Linked DNA regions of Homo sapiens. The protein of the gene in region 1 purifies or fractionates together with the protein of each later gene. This does not show direct contact. Each region holds a gene or a part of one and is shown on either strand. Other genes may lie near its edges.

Region 1 (3,656 bases):
TTTCTTGTATTGTAGGCATTGATTTTGTCTGGCTACCCTGCCAACGTGTGGGCTCCATGAGTGCACAGTTCCAGTGCCTGGCACAGAGCAGACACCCAGAACATCTAATGAAGGAATGAACTCCTAAAATGCCCTCTAGCATTTCTCTGTTAGCATTTAACCATCTGTGCAGGAATTTCAAATGTTCTGTCTCTCTCACCCACTTGAAACTGAAACCCTGAAGGGTATGGATGCTGCATGAAGCATTTTCTTCTGAAGGCCTAGCATACAGTAAATGCTGAACAAAGCAGAGAAAAAGAAGCGAAGAGGTAAGCAACAGGCAGAGCAACCAATCCAGACAGAGAAGACTAGAGGATAAGGCAAAAACCAGGGCAAACAGTAAGGGTGCTCAGATGCTTCAAGAGACGAGGGCTGGGGCACCAGGCTGGAAAGGGAAGGTGGTGAGGGCAGGATAGGAAAACCTAGAATCCCTTACACACAGCTGATAACCAGCAGCAGCTTGGACACGCTCTGCAGGTGGAAACCGTTGGGGGTGTCCTCCGGGATATGCCGCGTCTGTGTGGAACCTGTGGGGAGAATTAAAGAGACCATCACCATGGTGACCCACAAGTCCAACAACTGCTGGTGGGGACACTGGTCAAACAGCAAACATCAGAGACTGATGGAAAAATGTCCATGACACTGTGACAGCAACGATATGCGGAGACTGCCAGCTCTCCAAGAGGAGAAGGTAAAATCCTCAAGGGCAAGGTCATGGGTTGGGTCAGGTCATCATTGAACAAATGAGAAAATCAACAGGCCCATGTAGCTAGGATACACAGGCCCAGGACAAAGGGATCTTCAGCTATGGGAGAGGATGTGGCATTGGGCTAGGACTAAAGACGGCTGGCTTCTGGGTCTGGATCTATTCCTAGTAAGCTACATGATGGAGGACAAGTCATGTAAGCTCTCTGAGAGTCAGTTTACTCAAATGCAATGTCAGTCAGAAATCTTAAATGCAAAACACGTAACATGGAAGTGCTAGGGGTAAAGCTAGGCGGCATGCAGAAGGCTGGCACTCTTCCCCCACTCTCCCCTCTTCTTCTGCCTCCCCTGTCCATATCCAACTCAATTAGTTGGTCTCTAAGGCCCCTTAGAGTCCCAGGTTTCCAGGATTCAGCAAAGACAAGGATGTGAATGGCTGGGTGGGAAGAGGAAGAAATATTAAGGGAGTCCACGGCCTGAGAGGGCAAGCCTGGGTTGGCCCATGCGGGTTGAAGTGAACGGGGACTGTCTTGGTCTCCCTGATCTTTGTGTAATGAGGTAATCTCTGTGGTCTGAGCTGTGGGATCTCCTTAGTGTATTTCCCAAGAACTTGGAAGCTTCATACTTGAGCCTATGCAGGTAGCCATGGAACTAGGGCAACACGAAAGCATAAACACTAAGGCAGCTTTTGTTAATTAGAGCACACATATGGGTTCAGCTGGGGCTGAGGAACTTAAAGAGCAAAGAGAAACAGAGCATTGGGAGCCTCAGATTTAGTGACTTACGTTCAAATTATATACAAATTATAGCCAAGGTGCAAAATGAGTGTGCATGTGTGTGCCTTGGTGTGGGCATGCAGCTCCAGCCCAAAGCTTAGTCCACCCGACCTGTCCCCACCTGGCACACACCTGCCACATGTTTGATCCTGTGGCCCACATCCTCATCTGTGGGCGTGGTGACCGGGCTCATCACCTCTTCCAGGTGAGGGACTCGCAGGTGGGCATGGGGACGCTTCCTCCTCCGCACCGTTGTAGTCTTGCTGGCCTTCTCTTTGGGAGATTGTCTGTGCATCTCAGCCAAATAAGTGCTCTCCGTTTTGGCCAGCTCGCTCTCTATCAGAGACAAAAGGACCACAGGAGAGGCCACCTTCAGCCCTCCAATGCAACTCTCTGCAGAACCATTTTCCTATTCTGTATTCTGGGAAGTTGGTTGGGTGGGTTGAGGATCCTCAGGGATGCCCATGAGCCTCAGGAGGTACTTGTGGGACCCAGCCCCAGTCAAACCCTTCCTCTGGGGTTGTTCAACATTGCAAGGAACCATATGTTCCCAATATCTGCACCCTCATGTATACAATTTGGGGCATACACGTCTTAAATAGATGCATTCACAGGCATTTTACAAATACTTCTCGTCACAGAGCCACCTATATCACTAGGTCTGTGGTTCCTTTTGGGGTGAGGGGTGTTTTATAGATCCCTCAATGATCTCTTAAACATCCTAGACACAGTCTAGAAAAATGCACTTGTCCACATACATGCCAAATTTGGTGTCCACTTCTGAAGCAGGTGTGGGTACCTCATGAAACTACTTCACCTTTCAGTCTCTGCCTCTATTCTCAATACCATTCCCCTGAATGGTGGGCGGCCGCAGTGCAGTTTACCATCTCTGCAGCCCAGCTAGCAGCAAGGATTGCAGTGCTCACCTAAATGGCGGAAGTAGTCCTCCAGCCCACTCCAGAAGTTCTTCTCGATGAACGTTTTCACTAACCCCCAGGGCTGTTTTCGATAGCGCAGCTCTGTGGAGACCCTGAGGAGCAAGCCAGACACAAGATCAGTCATTTCCTGGGTGGGCCTGCCTCTGCTGGGAAAAGGGAAATTCGGAGTTAAGGCCAGATCCGCTTCACATTTGTACTAAACTTTACAAGTTAAAAGGTCCTTCCACATCCATCTCACCCTCTGAAGTCAGTGGAGCTGGTGGATTTATCCCCATTTTATAGATAAGAAAACTGAGCCGTAGGATATTTAAGCAGAGCAAAGGCTAACAACTAGGGTTCTGACTCCAGAGTTCTCTTATGATGGCACACTGCCTCCTCTCAGGGGTCTCACATAGGGCCCAGCAGCCTGCCTGCCAGGCAAGGGGAAGCTCTGCCTGAGGTTCAAGTCTTTTGAGAAACTGACACTGAAAGAAAGTAAGACGGCTCATCCTTTCATCAGGGTCATTCTCTCCTTCTCCAGAGACTTTTAAGTCTAAGTCAAGTTCTGGGTTTTTATCACTTTAACCTTTAAAAGTATGTCATCCTGGGCAACAGAGTGAGACCCCCATCTCTACAAAAACAAAAATAATTAGCCAGGGTCATGTCTGTAGTCCCAGCTAATGGGAGGTTGAGGTGGAGGTTGAGGCTGCAGTGAGCCATGATCACACCACTGCACTCCAGCCTGGGGAAGAGAGTGAGATCCTGTCTCAGAAAAAAAAAAAGAATATCATCTGCTGCCAGCCCTGGCTCCTGCCTCTCCACTGCACCCCAGACCTCACCAGCTCTTGCTCTTTTCCAAGCATTCTTGCTCCCAGTCACTGGTCACACTTCTGTCCATACCCCCTGCAGTATCAGCTCTTTTCTCTCCTATGCAGCAGCCCTGCTCTTTGCCTCCCCCTTAGGTTCATCTGCATCTGTCAATAGATTCTCCCAGCTAATCCATCCCGCCCCATCCCGCCCTGTGACTAAGGCTGCCAGCCCAGCCTCATCCCCCTCCTCAGGGATGCCACCTCCACCCATGTCCAGATGGGAGAATGCCTGTACTTGGAGACATGTCACTCCCCAACTCAACAACCGCTGACTGCATCGTGGATGGGCACCTTCCTATAATGGTCTGTTCAAGTTCACCCAGCTACCTCTGCATGGCTGCAGAGAAAAG
Region 2 (3,656 bases), on another chromosome or scaffold:
AGTTTATGAAGTACCTTTTTGTTTCTTTAGTAACTATTAGGATCAGCTTTTCCTGATGCTTCAGATTGGTATTCCTGAAATAGTATGTTCGCATTTTTGTTTTAATCACTTGAACCTTACTAAAACTGGCCTAGTGTGTGTGACAGAGTAGCCTTTGGGTAAAATGTAGGGGCTACTGCCCCTCTAACCATCTTTTAGGCTGCTTCCAGGATATTTAAAAAACATGAATTTATTCAGATCATTCCCCAGTTTTAGAAATCGAAATCACAATACAATTCCTGCTGCATTAATTATAATTTCCTTTGTCTTTGAGAGTCCATACTCTGTTGATATCCTATTGTGTCATCATTTCTTACCTCTTTACAACTTTGTGATATAGTGTAGAGAACATATTTCTCATTAGGCAGCCACAGGATTGTTAGTTGACTTCTCATACTGGCTGTATAGAAACATGAGTGTGCTACTTTACCTGTATGAGCCTTGGTTCGTTCATTTTACAGTGTAGTAATAATAGTAGCTATCTCCTAATATAGACTGTACAAGAATTAAAAGATCCTATTTAACATGACAAGTAAAATGCTTGCCATAGGATATTTATATCTAGAACTTTGACAGACATACCTAATCATTGTCACTCAGGCATCCTGCATATCATTCATTTATTCATTTGCCTATCATTTGTTGAACATTTAAAATGTCCTAGATACTTAGAATATGAATGTTGAATGTCACAAAAATGAATGTCACACTCCCTCCCCTTTAGAAATTTACAGAATGGGATGAGAGATAATGATATGTAAATAAATACATATTTTTAAATAATTAAAATATCTTGTGTCTTTTCACTTGTGTGAGTCCTTCCTGTCTTTTAATATTTAAATGCAAAATGTTTCCATAATACCCACAGAATATCTGGGTTGTATATATCATACTGTAATGTATATATATTTTTTACTTGTCTAAATCAGCTATTCAACTATGAACTCCTTGAGTTTGACCAGTACTACTGGAGTCAGCAACTTTTTTAATATAAGAGAAGGTAGTAAATATTTTAGGCATTGTGGACCATATGGGCTCAGTTGCAACTACTTAAACTGTGCTACAGGAGCACAAAAACAGCCATAGATAAATTATAAACAATGGGCATGACTGTGTTCCTATTAAACTTCATTTACGAAACTAGGCAGCAGACCAGATTTGGCCCACAGGCTTTAGTTTGCCAACCTCTGCAATGGTGCATGCATATACTTTTATTTGTGCTTGACAAATAAAAGGCACTTAGTAAATAATATGATTAATAGGCATTAAACACTTTCTGTATTCTGGGTGCTATTGCAAAAAACTTTATATGTATCAGTTTACTTAAGCCTTAAAACATCTCTCTGCGGTAGATACTATTATCACCAAATGTCATAGAGTAATAATAGAAGCACTTTCATTAATAGATAGGAACACAACATTGGTTCAAAAGTCTTAGGCAATACATTAAGAACAAGAAAAATAATTAACCTGTAAATAAAGGGGGGAAATGTATCACTATTATTTAGAGTTGATATGACTGCTTACAAATACAAATAAATATAATACAAATACAAATAGCAAAAAAATATGAGATAACAGAAAAAGATTTGTATTAAAAAATTTCAGTAAGCTGATTGGCTATAAGATAAAGTTAGAAAATTCATTAGCCTTCTTATATATCAACAATAACCAACTATGAAATACAGTAATAAGAAGTAGCAGCCTAAACTATAAAATACTTAAGATTTTAAAATGTGTAATAGCTATGTGAAGAAAACTGCAAAAAGATGTGAATGGATGGAGGAGTATTCATGAATGTGTCAACTTAATGCCATAAAAATGACAGCTTTTACTAAATTATTCTATAAAGTCAATGCAGTTCTAATCAGAAATTCAACAGGAGTTTTAAAATGGAATTTGACAAACTGATGGTTCAAGTTTTGAGAAGGGAGCATGCACAAGAATGGCCAAGTAAATTTCAAAAAGAAGTATAATAAATGGGACCCATCAAAGGTCGAAACATTATAAAATTACAATTATTAAAATAAGAATTTGGAGTAGGAATAGGCATATTGATCAAAGGAATAGAATAATAAATTCAGGAGAAGATCCATAGATAAACATGGATAAAGAAGAATTGTATGATAAATGAATGAGTAATGGAAGAACTGGTCTATAAAGGGTGTGGGACAATCAACTGTTTAATTGAAGTAAAGATAGTTAGGTACCCACTTCGTGACACTCTCAAAACTAAGTTCCAGGTGGACTAAATGGTTTTTTATTTTTATTTATTTATTTATTTTTGAGATGGAGTCTCGCTCTGTCACCAGGCTGGAGTGCAGTGGCGTGATCTCGGCTCACTGCAACCTCCGCCTCCCAGGTTCAAGCGATTCTCCTGCCTCAGCCTCCCAAGTAGCTGGGATTACAGGTGCCCACCACCACGCCCAGCTAATTTTTGTATTTTTAGTAGAGACGGGGTTTCACCATGTTGTCCAGATGGTCTCGATCTCTTGAGCTTGTGATCTGCTCGCCTCAGCCTCCCAGAGTGCTGTGATTACAGGCGTGAGCCACTGTGCCCAGCCCCGAGTGGACTAAATGTTGATAAATAAAAAATAAAATGACAAAACTTTTAAAAGTTAATTTAAAAACTCGTTGGAGTAGAGAAGGCCTTTTAAGTGAGACATCAAACTTAGATGCCATTTAAAAAGGAAGGCAAGCAATAGACTGGGATAAAATATTCGACATGTAATAGACAAAATTAATATTCAAGGTATATAAGGTGTACCTACAAATCAATATGAAAAAGATAACCTGATAGAAAATGGGAAAGAATGTAAGCAGGAAATTTATAGAGGTAGAAATATAGGTAGCCTGTTAAGTTTTGAAGGAATACTATTGAACCGAATATAAATAGCTTCATCTTTTTAGGAGAAAAGTTTGGCAGTATCTATCCATTTCAAATGTACGTTCTCCTGAGCCAGAAGTTTTATTTCTATATGTCTGTAATATAGAAATGCTATCATTCATTAATAGAGAGTATTGCATGATTATTCCATGCAGAGGAGAAAATGTATGATGGGAAACTGGAAGTAATAAGATCATCATTAGAACAGTTAAATTATGGTGTGCCCTTACACTATAATATTAGATACTTATGAAAAAACATGAAATAGACATAGATGTACTTCTTAAGATATTTTACATGAAAGGGCGAGATACAATATAATACATACACAAAGACACAATTCATACACACACAAAAAAAATACAATACACAAAAGCAGTGTATGTGATTTCACTTACATAACAACCAATCCCAGAAAACCTAACACACAGGTAAGCACAGAGAAAAAGACTGGAAGGGTACACCACAGTTGTTAGCTATAGAAATAGGAGTTGGATTAGGGATCAGGAAAGAGTTAAAAACAATGTTTGTATGTGTATTTTCAAGTATAAGCAAGTACAGCCTTTGTGATATAACAAACATAACAACACATGCAAGGCTTTGTTATGATTGGTCCTGATTAGGACCATTCCTCCTGGGTGGACAGCTTTGATTTATGTCGGTTTTCCCTGCGTAATTTTTAATAGCACTTCCTTTCACTTGCAGAAGCTTCCCAGTTGGTGTCTGAAGT

Evidence for each region. The genes of interacting proteins can lie anywhere in the genome.
Region 2: the proteins of GRAMD1B (region 1) and FNDC3A purify together in Homo sapiens (affinity purification with mass spectrometry; 2 studies listed by BioGRID and IntAct, with this or other methods). This does not show direct contact.

Annotation. Positions count from the first base shown.
Region 1 is NC_000011.10:123,611,655-123,615,310, reverse strand, and holds part of GRAMD1B (protein Aster-B), read right to left. Parts: intron 2,551-3,656; coding exon 2,447-2,550; intron 1,857-2,446; coding exon 1,653-1,856; intron 567-1,652; coding exon 476-566; intron 1-475. UniProt on the Homo sapiens protein: Cholesterol transporter that mediates non-vesicular transport of cholesterol from the plasma membrane (PM) to the endoplasmic reticulum (ER).
Region 2 is NC_000013.11:48,982,379-48,986,034, forward strand, and holds part of FNDC3A (fibronectin type-III domain-containing protein 3A), read left to right. Parts: intron 1-3,656. UniProt on the Homo sapiens protein: Mediates spermatid-Sertoli adhesion during spermatogenesis.